2 separate regions of the Homo sapiens genome follow, and region 2 is linked to region 1. The links come from fine-mapping of genetic effects on gene expression. Tissue or cell type: whole blood. Region 1 holds a variant in brackets; the other region holds the start of a gene. All regions are shown on one strand. Distances are between the middles of the regions.

The links. PIP is the estimated chance that this variant, and not a neighbour inherited with it, causes the effect.
Region 2: GARS1-DT starts here. The variant in region 1 is fine-mapped to the expression of GARS1-DT in whole blood (TOPMed, PIP above 0.99).

The regions. Positions count from the first base shown.
Region 1 is chr7:30,657,977-30,666,080 of GRCh38, forward strand. CRHR2 (corticotropin releasing hormone receptor 2) reads right to left here. Exons shown (of 12, transcript NM_001883.5): 4 at 7,554-7,663; 5 at 7,094-7,211; 6 at 4,718-4,871; 7 at 4,180-4,240; 8 at 2,597-2,669. It overlaps LOC124901609 (a long non-coding RNA gene), which reads left to right. Exons shown (of 2, transcript XR_007060276.1): 2 at 1-2,065. Among named protein-coding and RNA genes, the nearest start is that of CRHR2, 20 kb to the right of the region's middle. RefSeq lists an enhancer at 4,162-4,704. The variant C/G (reference allele first, on the strand shown) is at 4,755.
Region 2 is chr7:30,574,017-30,582,120 of GRCh38, forward strand. It overlaps GARS1-DT (GARS1 divergent transcript), which reads right to left and starts at 3,763. Exons shown (of 7, transcript NR_038889.1): 1 at 3,633-3,763; 2 at 2,548-2,694.

The sequences.
Region 1 (8,104 bases):
CATCCGTCTATCCATTCATCTACCTAGCAACCAAGGCCTTGTCTCCATCCTTACACTTGGCAGACATTTAGTTATGTGGCCCCACTCATCTCAGCTTGGGTCTATGTAACCTGAAAATCCTTCTTTCCTTTGAGCCTGTTTCCCAGCCTCCCCCTTCACACCACCACAGGTACCTTCCTCTCTCTCCAGGGAGCCTTCTGGTCACCCTGCCCACACTGAGCTCTCCGGCTTTCCATTCTTGGACTCTACCTCCCTGCTAAAAACACACTCCAGTTCTTTAGTAAGAACTGTCTATTGTACCCTGCCCTCGTTCAGCCTGTTTCTGGTTTTATTTAATTGTTCATTCATTCAATGAATCAATGGACCATGTGTCAGGCTCTGAGCCAGGCATCAGCGATGGCGAAGTGGACAGGCAGTCACAGCCCCTGCTTGCAGAGGGCTTGTGGCCTAGCTGGGGGCCTGGAGGGGTTGGGGGTGGGGGAGATGACATCTTTCCTAAGGTGTCAAAAAGACCTGGAGAAATGGCAGATGGGCTAAGAACTGAAGATGAGGCCCCCCTCCCAAATGAACTGAAGCACCAAGTCCTAGTCTCATGGCTCAAATTTTGACTGTTCCAATTTGCAGTTGTGTGGCCTTGGGTAAGTTGCTTAACCTCATGAGCTCCTGCTTCCTTGTCTGCCCCCGAGGGGCCTAACCACAGAGCTTGCCTTAGAAGATCAGCATGGGCTGAAATAGTCACAGAGACCACTAAGACCTGTGTCTGGCCTAGTGACTGCCAATCCTTTCCCATGACACCAACAATGACAACACCAGCAAGAAGTCAGGCTTCCTGCAAATTCAACCACCTGATTCACTTCTCAGAACCAGAAATAAGTGAGTGTCTCTTAGCAGCAGAAATGCAGCTGTGAGCTGCTGGGGAGTGTAGGGATGGCAGGAACACCAAACACGTGTCCAACCTCGAGGACAACAGGCAGATGGTGGGGACAAAGCAGGAGACCTGCCTTTGAGCCTCTGCTCTGCTAGCTATTAGTGGTGACCTTGGGCAAGCCACTTCATCTCTCTCAGCTTCTTCCTCTGTAAAATGGAGAGCATAACCCTACTTCTTTTAGGACTTGAGCATGCAAGGGTTGGAAATAATGTAGATAGAGCTTCTGGAAGGGCTCAGCTTGGAATGTGGAAGCCCCTGTTGGTGCAAAGAGCTGGGCCCAAAGGAAAGAAGGAAAGGGCTCGTGAGCACAGACGCAGGGGTGGAGCCAGAGAATGGGTCTGGAAGAGGAAGCATGGAGCTGGGTCTTGACACTGAGCTCTTGCGTTCCTCGCCTCCCTTTCTCTTGGCATTTCCTCACCACCCTTCCAACATCTTTACAGTTGGGGCTTACTCTTTGCCACCATTGGTCCCCCATCCAGGCCAGCCTTCCTTGGCTCAGTTCCAGGCTCATCAAAAGCCTTATTCCTCCAGGATGGCCCTTGGCAGCTGGTTGGGAGGGAAAGGATCTCATGGGGTTTCCATACACACTGAGGGGTGAGTGACTCACTGCAGCTGGGAGTCCAAGGACAATCCTACTAGCTGCTGACAAAACCTGGCTTCTGCCTCTGAAGCGAACCAAGCCCTGACGGTGGAATTTCCAGCAGTGGGTGAAAAACCTTCCTAGTCTTCATCAGTTCACATATATCAAGGACACTCCAAAGATGGAGGTCAAATGAAACCCGAAGTCACAGAAAAAGGAGAGTAAGAAAATAAAAGAGATAAATAATAATTGTCTCCAAGGTAGACAAAAGAAAGCCCCACCAGGCACCTTCTGTGTGCAGGAGGAGATGGCACTCTCGCTGAGTCTCCCAGAAGGAACTGTGGCCCTTTAAGGAAGCTGGTACATACAGGAGCCTGAAATTACTGAGCCTGAAATAAGTCTTACGTAAATGCCAATTTCTTACGGGGCTTTTTTGTATGTCTTTCTTTCTTTATCTCTCTCTCTTTTTTTTAAAGGTATGATATATAATGGGTTCCTTTTGCAGAATGCAGCCTCTACTTGAACTCTCTCTTAATTAAAGCTCATTGTGGATTAAAGATGTGTGGCAATTATACCTTAGATGCAAATACATTTGGCAAAGGGCAGGGAGCTGGACAAGGAACAATTCCTCATTATGCTGCATCCCGGTATTCACCGCTTCAGGCTGGGGGTGGTGGGCTGGACCTGGAGAGGGTCACTGGGGGCTGAGGGGAACGTAGGTCTGGAATGAACAGAAGCCCGCACACTCTTCTCTTGTCACCAGCTGCCTGCTCACCTGGCTTTCTCAGCATTGTACAGTGTCAGACCGGGAGGGCACAGGAAGTCTACCCATCAGATCCTTTCTCCTCCCAGAGAAAGAGCCCTGAGGTCAGCAGAGTGGTGCAGGGCTGCGCCAGGGCATCGAGCATGAGGAAGGGAAGGCCGGGTGGTGCTGGGGCACAGGGTGGCATGGACAGGGTACGGGGGTGGCATATAGAGTGTGTGCGCAGGGCTGCCCATGCCACATCTTTCCCAGCGTCTCTGCCTGGGTGGGCCCTCTTCTGTCCTCTTGGCACCCAGCCCCATCCCAGCCACCGCTGAGGGCTTACCAGGAGCACGAGAATGATGGGGCCTTGGTAGATGTAGTCCACCAGGTCGCCAGGCTCCTTGCCAAACCAGCACCTGTGAAGATGGGGTGGCTGTAGGGGGCCTCCTGAGCTGGAACTGGGGGACCCCCACAGACTTGGGCCCAGGGTCCTCCAGCTTTACCCTTCCTGAGACCCAATCTCCAGGACTGCCCCTTCCCAGAAAGCCTTGGTGGAAATACCAGCTCCACTGACCACCCTTACCCACCAGGCTGTCTTTTGCTCTACATGGTGGGTCTGATCTCCCCAGCCCGACTGAGGACAGGCCATGGGTCTCTTTCTCCTCCTCTTTTACCTGCCCCATTGCAGACTGCTAGGCATAGGACTGGGCATGCAGGAGGCACAGGAATAAAGGGAGAGCTGGGCTCCCCCTTGCTGGCCCAGGGCCAATTGCCTTAGGCCACCTGTTCCCATATTGCTTGAAACCCGCTGTTCCGTGTGCCAGGCACTCACTCGGCCACACAAAGCAGCAGATGTGGAAGTGGAGCCTTCCTACCTCCAGCCTGGGATTTTGCGTCTTTGAGCCAATGCTTGTGCACCCAGTGAGGGGAGCTGCTGCCTGGCTGGCCTCACTGGCTGCCAGAGGCATAATTCATTCTCCGGGGATGCTGGTCAGGGGAAATGCTTTAGGGTCTGGGTCGGCCAGCAACTACTGGACCACAGGGAGGGGCCATCAACTTTGGGGAACTCATTCCTCTGAAATCTTGGAGGTCATCCAGTGCAGACCTGCCTCAGATAGGATTCTCCCTGTCTCCCAGGGTTTCTGGCCTCTGCTTGGAGCCCTCCTTTGACAGGAAGCTCACCACCTACCAAGGCAGCCCTCTTCTTGGGCAGCTTTTACTCTTACAAGCTCTTCCTAATGTTGAGCTCCTGGAACTCTACTCCATTCTTGCCCCCACTCTGAGAACAGATCCCCTCTGCTCTCTCCAGGCTCTGAGACAGACCCCTTGGAGATTTGCATACAGGCTAATGTTCCCTGGTCCCCGCTGCTCTCAGCTGGTGACACCTGACTTTCTGGCTGCTCCTTGGCTGACCCATGGCCAGAGTTGCTGTCATTTGGGCTGTGGCTCAGCATATTACAGCCTCTGGCATAGGGAGAACCTCAGGATGGGACACTGCACCCAGGCAGAGACTGAGACTTCAGAAAAAAAAACAAGCTCTGTTAAATGCTCATGGACTCTTTAAATGCTCATGGACAGCTCTGGATGTCATGTGCGGCCTTGGCCCCTTCCACATACCCCGGGCCAGAGCTGCCACATCCAAGTCTGAGGAGGCCTTACAAAGACCAAAGGGGTCATGCGTTGGGTCGGGGGGCACTTCAAGGAACCACAATTCCTAACTTAATTCAGCAAAGTTCCTTGAGCCCTACCATGTGAGTACCTCTGAGTGCAGGACTATTTTTTTCAATTTAAGGACAACAGGAACGTGGATCTGTCTAGGTGTGGCTACAATTCCTGCTCCACGGCTTGGCCAGAGCCCAAGGCTGACCTGTCCTAACACCCCCATTCCCTTCCCCATGACCCCCCATGGCTGGCCCATCCACTTACTGTTCATTCTCATAGTAGAGCTTGCCGATGGCCCAGGCGACGATGATGGGGAAGGGGATGCCTGAAAGAAGGAAAGACTTGGGCTGCAGGGGACAGATGGACAGGGACTTTCTTGTAGGACATACCGTGGGGTACCACAACAGGGCTAGGATCATGTTTTTACTCTTCCAACAGCAGGCCACCCACAACCCCAGGGGTGCCCTGTCCCTCAACACCTGGCCCATGCCCCTGCCCCTCTCTCCAAGCAGGGCTGCGTGATTTTGTGATAGAGAAGTAGAGCCAGCCAGTTTCTGAGCCAGAGACAAAGGCCTTTGGACAGGTCCTTCCTGGCAGGGGGAGAAGAGCTATTTGAGGAATATCCTTTGGAGAGATCCTTTGCTTGTTCCTCACCAGCATGGAGGGAAGTAGCTGCATCCACCGGACTGCGCTGGGGGTGGAGGGCAGGGCCAGGCTCTGGTCCTTGGACCCAAGACGAAGGGAAATGGCCTGGTGAGAAGTCCTCCCCCCAACTAGGCCCTGCTGCCCCTGGGACCCTCACACCATCCGATGAAGAGGAAGAGGCACTTGCGCAGGCG[C/G]TCAGTGGAGTAGGTCATGACAATGGCCGTGTGCAGGTAGCAGCCTTCCACAAACATCCAGAAGAAGTTGGTCACCACGAAGTAGTTGAAGATGGTGGTGATGCAGCGGCACCAGACCTGTGTGCAGGGCAGAGAGGCTGTCAGGAGGCAGCTTGGGGCCCAGGTAGGACATACCCATCCCCAGGCAGGGCAACAAGACACAGGGCTCCCCAAAGGGGGTTCGTGGACATGCCATCAAATACCAGCGAACCTCACTCTGAAAAGCTTCATCCTTCTCCAGTGCTCTTTCACACTTTCAGATTAAGTTAAGGTGCCATTCTCCACTGGGGCCAACGTGTTTTTTTTAACTTCTCTCTAACTCTTTCTAATTTTTCATTCTAGTAAAGAGAGCAAGAGTCTGGCTCTGAGCTTTCTGTAGGCAGAGGCTGGAATTCAACCATCTTGTTGTGTTTTCATTTTAGTTTTTTTGAGTCATTTTCAATCCATAGCAAGTCAGACCTGCTTCCTTTTGGGGATGGGATATGGAATTTCATTTAGAAAAAAATGAAAAAATAAAAGTGAGTAAAGTGAGTCAAGGGTGTATGAAGTGGGGCTGCGGCCAGGGAGGGGATTCTCCAAAGACTCTGGGTTTGGGAACTTCTGGACTTGGCACAATTATTACTAGCTCTGGAGGGAGACTTGCAAAGTACACGGCCCCCGGCAAGTCACTGCACCTCTCTGAACCTCAAAAAGTAACCCTGCCTTCCAGGGTGGTTGAAGGAGATAGAGGATGGCAAAGACAGGCATGAGGGTAGCTGTGTTGTGGCTGTGGTTGTGCCTGCTGTGGTTCCGTGCCTTCCCAGCAGAGGGGAATGTGTCCCTGTCCCTCTGAGCAAGGCCACCCTTCCCCAGGCACCAAGGCTACCTTCCCAAAGGAGGCAGGGAGGGGAAGACCCTGCCCCTTTAGAGCCACGCAGTGGGCCATGGCAGGGCCAGGGTCTAGACATTGGGCTTCCAGGCCAGAGCTCCTCTCAACAGACCCCACCTGGTCATCTTCCCCACAGGCTCATCCCCAGGGCACCCTGAGAGCCAAGGCTGGGACATGGGGAATGATGGAGCCAGCTCAAGGTCCGGGGAGCTGTGCGTCAGGGGCTCTGCTTCTGCACACAGCCCATCCTCTCTGTCTGGCTCTGACAGCCCCAGTTCTCAGATAACCCTCCTGTGCTGAGCTGTTGGCTGCTTCTGGGCTTCCCTGCACAGTCCCTGTGGCTGGCTGTCTCCTTTTTTCTGAGAAAGTCCTGCTGAGGTGGGAAGCTACCAAGCCCCTCCTCCCAACCCTACTTTTCATCCAGGGTTGATGATGTTCTATTAGCACAAGCCCACGTTGGAGCTAGAAGGCACCCTCAACTCGAGTGAACCTGTTTGATTCTGAGGCAGTGTTCTATGTGGGACCATGTTAAGGATCACACCAGGCTGGTGTCTGCTCAGGCACAGGCCACCCAAAGGAAATGTACTGAGAAGTCTCTGTCGGTGTGCCACAGGGCTCTGTGATGGCCCAAGACTAGTCTACAGTTTTACAATAGCTTGGACACAGTACACAGCAATGGACAGAAATCCAGAGTGGACAGTTAGCATGTGGGATAGCCCCTTATGTAGAGGTATCATCACTGCATGTGACCTTGGCGAGTCACTTAACCTCTGTGAGTCTCAGTTTCCATGTCTATGTAATGGGGAAAATGATCCCTGCTGGTCTCATTAGGATTAAGTGAGAGAAAGCTCAACAGAGGTTAGTTCTAGCTTCCTTTTCTCAAAGGGGTCTTTGAGGGCACCTGAATCCACAAGATGAGGAGTGGACTAGGATAAATGTGTCTAGAGTCAGCTTTGTGAAGCTCCCAGCCTGGCAGCTTCCTGCTCCTCCCAGCCCAGCTCTGTTGGGACAATGGCTAGGGTGGAGGTGAGCTCAGGTCTGGTTTTGCACCTGAGCCACAGCCCAGATGACAGCATTCTGGCCATGGGTCAGCCAAGGAGCAGCCAGAAAGTCAGTTGTCACCAGCTGAGAGTAGCAGGGACTGGTGAACATCAGTCTCTGTGTGCAAATCTCCAAGGGGTCTGTCTCAGAGCCTGGAGAGAGCAGAGGGGATCTGTTCTCAGAGTGGGGGCAAGAATGGGGTGGAGTTGCAGAAGTTCAACATTAGGAAGAGCTTGTAAGAGTAAAAGCTGCTCAAGAAGAAGAGGGCTGCTTTAGCAGGTAGTGAGCTTCCTGACAAAGGAGGGGTCCAAGCAGAGACCAGACAGACAGATGGGTGCCCCCGGAGCCCAGAGCCCCCCAGGTATAGCCCCGAGTCTCCCCGAGCAATGACCTCATTGCTCTCGTGCACTTCATGGTCAACGAGCTGCAGCAGGAACCACATGACATTTCGCAGGATAAAGGTGGTGATGAGGTTCCAGTGAATCACATTCCGCAGACAGCGAATGCTCCTGTGGGAGGTGCAGGTCAGGGGTCAGCCAGGTTCAGGGGTCAACTGGGACTGGGTTCCCCCTGAGGCCAGGTAGAGACTCAGCCTGGGATGAGGGCAGGGCTGCACTAGGAGCCACTTCCCACCCATGGTGGCCACAGTTGGGCCTCTGAGTCCAGCTCCCACTCTGCACCCCACATGCCTGCTGGTGATTCATGCCCTGGCACCCCACCCAAACCCCACTTTCTCCACGGGCCCTTTTATCTGCTGGGCCCCAGAATGGAGGTGAGAATGTCTGGGAGAGGTGAAGGGGGTGCTGTAGGGGGAGGGATGAGGAGAAAGCAAGGCGGAAGGGCAGACTCACCGCAGGGCCAGGAAAAGCAGGAAGGCGGCCACCAGGGCTGCCACAGATACGCAGTGGCCCAGGTAGTTGACGACAAGGGCGATGCGGTAGTGCAGGTCATACTTCCTCTGCTGGACAGACAGACATGGGCAGGGCAGATGGAGGCATGGGCACGTGGGGGTGGGGCTGGGTATTCCAGCCGTGGCCACCTCTGTGTCCTGACCTTGGGGGCAGAAGTGCTCCAGGTGTCATTGCCGTGCCTGGCTCTTAGGGTTCGTTCCTGTTGGCCCTGGGTGGCTCTTGTTGTTATAAATGGCTGTGGTCAGGCCTTCCAACATGCATTTATTTTTATTTTTTTAGAGATGGGGTATCACTCTGTTGCCCAAGCTGGGGTCCAGTGGCTATTCACAGGTGTGATCACAGTGCACCGCAGCCTTGATCTGCAGGCCTGAAGCAATCCTCCCACCTCAGCCTCTGAAGTAGCTGGGACTACAGACAAGTGCCACTGTGCCTGGCACCAACATGCATTTTTGGGGGCACATTTTGAGAGGTATGGGTACAGATTCTTTTTT
Region 2 (8,104 bases), 84 kb before region 1:
ATGGTGTAGTTACATTGGTGACTTTAGATGTCCCAGGGCGGGACCAAAATTTTGGCTTCTCTCAATACAAAGTGTTGCCTGGAATTTTAGTGCTTTGCGCACTGATATGTGCATTGAGATTGGGCCCCAAATGGGTTTCTGAGGGGATGCAACCCCAGAAAGTTTGCTCTGATAGGACTGGGGAAGGTTTACTGCTCATTCTGACATTGTAACCCTTGTCATTTCCATAATTTTAAGGCTATATAAGTCAGCCAGGTTCATTAATTTGAAAGGAGTTTCTCCCTTGTAGTTAGGATGTTAAGTTATTTTTTCAAGGGCCCAAGATTGGGCTGGGATCAGGATTGGTAGTCTGTTTGGATGATGATGGAGATAAACAAAGCCAACAGTGCCTTGCCAAAGCTGGACTGGTGGTATTTAACAGTCTTTGTGTTAAAGTTTTTAATAAATACCCAGAATCCATTAATTACCAGAGGGGTAAAGCGAAACTCTTTTGTAAAATAAAGCTGATTATCAGTATGCATGGTCTTAGTATACACAGGCTGTGGGTGACCATTATGGTATAAAAAAAAAATACTTATTTGTTATTTTGTTCTATAGATAAAAATTAATTAAAACACTTTAAAAGAAGTGATTCAATCCATTTGGAAGAAAGCAATTAAATTGTAAAAATATAAAAATGGCTACTATTATATCCAGCTTACAGTAAATATACAAGAAGGACACCAAGGAAAGTTGATAGGAATTTACTTATCTTTTGGCTGCCTTTTAAACAGGTACTTCAGGTCTTCTACAGGTTCACAGGTTTAGTGGCTGATGGGATCTTCAGGTTCCAGGTCTGGGGGCTTCAGTTATTGCAGGCTGGACCCTGGAAAGACATATCCAACTAACTATTCCCAGTACTTTGACTGGAGAAGGCATGGCCAGTACCACTGAAAATAGTCCCTTCCATTTGGGTTGTAATTGTTCAGCAGGTGATCCCTCCTTCCATGTTTTAACAAGTACTTTATCTCCTGGCCTGATTTTGGGTTGCTGGTTAGTTCCTGGTGTGGGGAGTCTTTGAGTTCTAAACTTTTGTAAAGCCTGCTGAAATTGTCCCAGGTTAATTACGCATGTTACTAAACTGGCTGTTTCTGGATCAGTAATTAGATCATTATTTAAAAATGGCCAGCCAGGAGCGGTGGTTCATGCCTGTAATCCCAGCATTTTGGGAGGTTGAGGCAGGCGAATCACCTGAGGTCAGGAGGTCAAGACCAGCCTGGCCAACATGATGAAACCCTGTCTCTACTAAAAATACAAAAACTAGTCAGGCATGGTGGCACATGCCTGTAATCCCAGCTACTCAGGAGGCTGAGGCAGGAGAATTGCTTGAACCAGGGAGGCAGAGGTTGCAGTGAGCCAAGACTGTGCCATTGCACTCCAGCCTGGGTGACAAGAGCAAAACTCCATCTCAAAAAAAAATGGCCTTCTGTATAACATTTCATATGAGCTCATATTAATTTTTGCTCTAGGAGAATTAAGGGTTCTTAAGAGGGCTACAGGCAATAAGCTGACCCAAATTTCTGATGTTTTCTAACATAGCTTAGCTAACACCCATTTTAAGAGCTTGATTAGCCCTTTCTACTTTCCCATGTAAATAATTTTTGATTCTGAGAGCCTTAGCAGCCCCTTGAGTTCTAAAAGATGGGTCTTTATCACTTTAGAGGCTTTGGGGTAACCCAAACTAGGGGATTTATTTCCTTTAAAAGAAGCTTAGCAACTTCATGAGCCTTCTTTGTTCTCATAGAGCAAGCTTCAACCCAGCCAGTAAAAGTATCTATTACTACTACCAAAAACTTGTATACTTTGCACACTGGCATATGGGTGAAGTCTAATTGCCAGTCTTCCCCTTTAACTTTAGCCAATATGTTCACACACAGAATCTCTTTTACAATTAATTTTTCATAAGCCTTCCACAACTTGTTCAAACCTTTTAGATTATTCCTATCTCACTTAAAACCATCCTTTCACCCTCTAAACTTAGGCAAGAAATCCACATTCCCATGCTTTTTACCAAAGGTACATTATCCTTTTCTTACATGAATTCTTTTCATAACTTACCCAGACCATCTACAAAATGCTTGGACTTTCTGAGTTTTCCTAAACATCTTTCTTTTTAAACAACCAGTCATTTTACGTTAGGACAAGAATTTATCGTACAAGATCTTTTCTCCTACAAAGCCACCATCTCTACAATCTTCCCTCACAAAAACATATCTTCATATATATAACTTTCTTCACATCTCTCCCCTACTTACTGGTTCCTTACTACCTTGTTTCATAAATAACTCTTTTTTTTAAAGTCCATAATTTGAATTAACTTTCAGATAACCTCCAAACTACACAAAATAATTCTTTCTCACCAATAACACATTTTTTGGCATATTTTGTATACAGAATTATATATTAACTATAATTCATATCCTTATGTATTAGTCTGTTTTCATGCTGCTGATAAAGACATACTTAAGACTGGGCAATTTACAAAAGAAAGAGGTTTATTGGACTTACATTTCCACATGCTGGGAAGGCCTCACAATCATGGTGGAAGGCAAGGAAGAGCAAATCACATCTTATGTGGATGGCAGCAGGCAAAAGGAGAGCTTGTGCAGGGCAACTCCCATTTTCAAAACCATCAGATCTCATGAGACCCATTCGCTATCATGAGAACAGCATAATTCAATCATCTCTCACCCACTGGATCCCTCCCCACAACACACGGTAATTATGGGAGTTATAAGAAGAGATTTGGGTGGGGATGCAAAGCCAAACCATATCATCTTAGTAACCTTAAATTTTAGTGAAACCTTAGGAAGCAAAAAATCCTAAACTATCAGATATTAGCATTTTATAGATGAGAATAATTCCACAATTTTTGGAAACATATTCCTCCCTATCATAACCCTTTCTTAATTGGAAATGACTGAGATATCCAATGGGCATCAAAAATACTTTTAAGATTTTAAATTACACAAAATTTACCTAATCATTCATCCCATTTACATGTACTTAAGTCTTTCATTTTTAACAGTTTATCTAGATTACTTCTGAAAACTGAGATATTAGACACCATCATTTAAAGTTAGTTATTTATTTGTTAACCATTTTTAATAGCCAATGAACATTATGTGTTCACCTAAATAAGAACCTCACAGTTAAATACATAGGTGTTTTTGCCAATAACCCAGAAGATTTAGCTAACAATATTAAATTAGTCTCATTTGTCAAAGAAGCCACATAAACTAAGGCCATTTTGTTTTGGCTGGGTTAATAGCTTTATAATCTTCTATGCCAAATGCTGACACTTCAACATTTCTAGCAAAGACAAATATAAAACCCAGACAAAAATGTATGCTGACAATTCTGAAGATATTTCTATTTTCATTTTACCAATAATTTTAAAGCCAGCTATTTAATGAAGATTTACTTAAGTCACATGAACTTGAAAATTGCTTGGACTTATTTATTTAATTTATGAGTGCTTTTTTATTTATAAGCTGATTTGGTTGACACAACATATAACAATAAGTGTACATACAAATAAACACATCTAGACATGTATACACACACACAAACGAAGATCCAATAGCTTTTACCTTGGAACTCTAGCCATGAGATATCAATACAAGCTCACAGGTTTTACATGGTTACACTTTGTTTGCTCCAATAGGTAATCCAGTGAAGGCTGTGAACCAAACATTTTTAAAGCAGTTCCGGTGGCAGTTTGATTTTTAAAGGCCAAACCTCCTCAGACTCCAAAGACACTGGAGCCAAATAGCACCAAAGGAGAGCACCATATGCTGACTAGGCCTGACCCTTCTTAGGACAGCAGCACCAAAGCCTGGATACATGCAACGTCATCCTGCTTTCCCATTCAACAGCAAACTCCAGATTCCAAACAATACTGGGGCCAAGTATTATTGCAAAAGAATATCAAATGTTTCCTCCTTAGATTATCAGGGTCAAATTCATTTCAATGGTTGAGGATGCAGCCAAGTGGGAAGTCAGGTGGAATAAATGGAGTGTTTCCTGTAGTGGTCTGCAAGAGAGAGACAATTCTAAGGAGGCCTTAGTACTAGACCTGAGAACCTTTGCCTAGGGCATCCCCTTTGGAGAGGCTGAGGTCTGGAGTTGGATCCCCTAGGCATCCCCCTTTGAGGTCCAGTCTAAAAGTGTCAGACATCTCTGACCTTAGGTGGGCACCAGTGTTGCTTTGTATGTTTTCCCTCCAGAGGCAATGGCCTAATATGAGCTTTTCTCTTGTCCCTGGATGAAGGTCTCAGCTTCTAGCTTCCTACCAATTTAGATAGGCCATATCTTCCTGCATTCCTTGCAAGACTAAGGAGGTTCCCGAACACTGCAGAGTTAACGGTACCAAGGCTAGTGGGATATTCCCCATGAAGAAATGGTGCAGAGGTTATATAAAAGATTGGGTTTATATTGGGTATATAAAAGATATATAGAATTTCTACGGGGTTCAGGGCAAGCAAACTGATGCCAAAGCAATGACCACCAAGCTCCCTTAAGTGGAGGTCCAAGATGTAGAATGTGTTCTAAAGCTTGTGGGTCCCAAAGGTCCTCAGCCAGTCAATAGATTCAGTAGGAGAAGGGAGGTCAAAATATCTAAGAGATATTATCTTTTGTCCTTACAGGCCAACTTTATGGGAGAATTTAGCTTAAGAAAGAGGGTTTAAGTCGCCTGAAATGTGTGTGAGTTCACCCTGGACGAGCTTCTGCTGCCAATTGCATCACAGGTAGGGATCAGGGACTATAACTCAAAAAGATACAAAAGAGTCCTTCCGCCTTCTGGGCAGGAGAGCTATCCCAGGTTCACTCCTTGGCCTTCAGGTAACAGTAGAGAGTGGTCCCGGCCAGTTTCCCTCAATTACCAAGAAGCTACTAGGAAACGGCCACTGAAAGACTGAAAAAAGGAAAAGGACTCAGGTCCCTCACCTGAATTGGGCAGTGGTGGTCAGGCACTTTCACACAGAAACCTTTCAGTTTCACCAGAGAGTGGCCCTGTTAGAAACCTGTGGTTGCCTCTGTGCTTAGGCACTGTCCACCGAGGGTTCCAAGCTGGAAAGGGAAAAAGAGACAGAGAAAAGAGTTCCCCTGTAAGGAGCAGAGAGGAAAAGGGAAATCAAGAGAAGAAAAATAAATCCCAAACTTTGGGCTTACCTCCTGGCTGGCTCGCCAATATATGTTACTGGTGGAGGGTCTTGACTATGAGTCATCCAGGTTCTTGGCATTTTGAACAAGGAACTGGACAAAATGCACAAACCAAGCAATGAAAGAATGAAGCAAAGAACGCACAGATTTATTTAAATGAAAGTACACTCCACAGACTGGGATTGGGCTCCAGCAAGGAGCTCAAGAGGCCGGTTACAGAATTTCCTGGAGTTTAAATACCCTCTAGAAGTTTTCCATTGGTTACTTGGTTATACCCTATGTAAGTGAAGGAGTGGCCCACGACAAGTCTGATTGGTTGTGGGAGGGGACCAATCAGAGGTACTTTCCATTTTTATCTGTGAGGCAGTGCAAAGACAGTAGCCTCTGATACTTTTGTTACTTGGGTGTGGAGAGGTGGGGTTTTCCTTGTGATTCAGTTCTAGGAAGTCAGGGCAAATTGGCCTTAGATTCCCTGCCTCCAGACCCTATTCTTCTACCTCACAAGCATGTCATGAATGGTCTGGAGTAAATCATAAGCGGATTTATGGAAAAAAAAGCTTTTAGATAATCAAGTTGTCTATAATTAAAGGGAAATTATTTTTAATGGTCTTTCTAGGAATTGGGTTTTGGTATTTTCTAAAAACCATTTATATACTGAAGAATCTTAGCACTTTGGGAGGCCAAGGCAGGTGGCTCACATGGTCACAGGTTCAAGACCAGCCTGGCCAAGATGGTGAAACCCCGTCTCTACTAAAAATACAAAAATTAGCCAGGCGTGGTGGCAGACGCCTGTAATCCCAGCTACTCGGGAGGCTGAGGCAGAGAGTTGCTTGAACCCAGGAGGCGGAGTTTGCAGTGAGCTGAGATTGTACCACTGCACTCCAGCTTGGGTGACAGAGTGAGACTCTGTCACACACAAAAAAAAAAAAAAAAAATTGGTTAGAACAATGGAATTTTCTTGAAGTATTGCTTCATTCTTAATAAAATTAAAATTGATAAAAGACATTATAATTTTTTAAGTAAATTTCAACTTGTATTGCATCTCACTGTTTTCAGCTTTTTCTCCCCTTTTAAAGTGCCTGAAATAATCACTCTATTCTTCAACTCATTTTCAGCTTCTGTAAGCTTCTTTTTTTTCGGGTTCTGTTGTGGTCTGATGCTAAAAATGTTTTCTCTTAAAGGTCTAAAGGAAATGTTTCCTTCCAACATAATATTCTGTGCTTTTGGCTTTAAATTGTTCTATGAAATAAAAAATTTTCACTTACGACCCAGGAAACACTCTTCCTATGTCTAACTGTGTCCAGAATTGGTTCCTGCCTATGGGTTCTTGGTCTCACTGACTTCAAGAATGAAGCCGCAGACCCTCGTGGTGAGTGTTACAATTCTTAAAGATGGTATGTCTGGAGTTTGTTCCTTCAGATGTTCAGATGTGTCCAGAGTTTCTTACTTCTGGTGGGTTCGTGGTCTTGCTGACTTCAGGAGTGAAGCCGCAGACCTTTGCAATGAGTGTTACAGCTCATAAAGGTAGTGCAGACCCAAAGCGTGAGCAGCAGCAAGATTTATTGTGAAGAGCAAAAGAACAAAGCTTCCACAGTGTGGAAGAGGACCTCAGCCAGTTGCAGCTGCTGGTTTGGGTGGCGAGCTTTTACTCCCTTATTTGGCCCTGCCCATGCCCTGCTGATCGGTCCATTCTACAGAGCGCTGATTGGTCCACTTTACAGAGTGCTGATTGGTCCATTTTTAGAGTGCTGATTGGTGCATTTACAAACCTTTAGCTAGACACAGAGCGCTGATTGGTGCGTTTTTACAGAGTGCTGATTGGTCTGTTTACAAACCTTTAGCTAGACGCAGAGCACTGATTGGTGTGTTTTTACTAGTGCTGATTGTTGTGCTTACAAACTTTTAGCTAGACACAGAGCGCTGATTGGTGCGTTTTTACAGAGTGCTGATTGGTGTGTTTACAAACCTTTAGCTAGATGCAGAGCACTGATTGGTGTGTTTTTACGAGTGCTGATTGTTGTGCTTACAAACTTTTAGCTAGACACAGAGCGCTGATTGGTGCGTTTTTACAGAGTGCTGATTGGTGCATTTACAAACCTTTAGGTAGACACAGAGCGCTGATTGGTGTGTTTACAATCCTTTAGCTAGACAGAAAAGTTCTCCAAGTCCCCACCCGACCCAGAAGCCCAGCTGGCTTCACCTCTCATAACTAATTCAAGTATCTCTTTAATTAGTTTTGACTTGCAGTTAATCTAAATGGATTCTCCACAGGGAACAGCAGTCGCAGTGCAGAAGCTCTTTGCTTTTGCTTTTGGGTAACTGGCCTAACAAACAGATTTTACACTTTATATTGAAATAATTCCTATGTCATTATTACTAAGTTTTGGTCTGCTTAGAAAAAACTGAGATTAAAAGAAAAACTATTTTTCATTAAGGTTATTACATCTGTGTAACTTTCTGTATGTGCTTTTAAAGTCCTTGTGCCATCAAGTTACAGGGTTTAGACTCCTGGGTCTAAAAAGGATGCCAAGTCCGGCTAAATCTTAAACACTGACAGCAGTTAAAGCTTTATCTTCAGACCCTGTAGAAGATACCAATCAAAATAAACTGTGTTCATGAGACACAGGGCCAGAAATTAAAACTATTCAACTCCTCAAGACCCAGGAACTATCATGGAAGACATGGGTGTGTGACATTGTAAGGGTCAATTTTGAGAGATAAAATAAGTTTAGTTTCTCTATAAATTAACCATTAATGTCGAAGGCACTGATGCAAGACTAGCATATGGGCCTCTGAGTCAGATTAACAAGGTTTTCTTGGAGCGTTAACCCACTCCTTAATAAAAGGTTATAAAAAAGGCTTATGGAAATTACATCTTATGGTCAAGATGATTAAACTA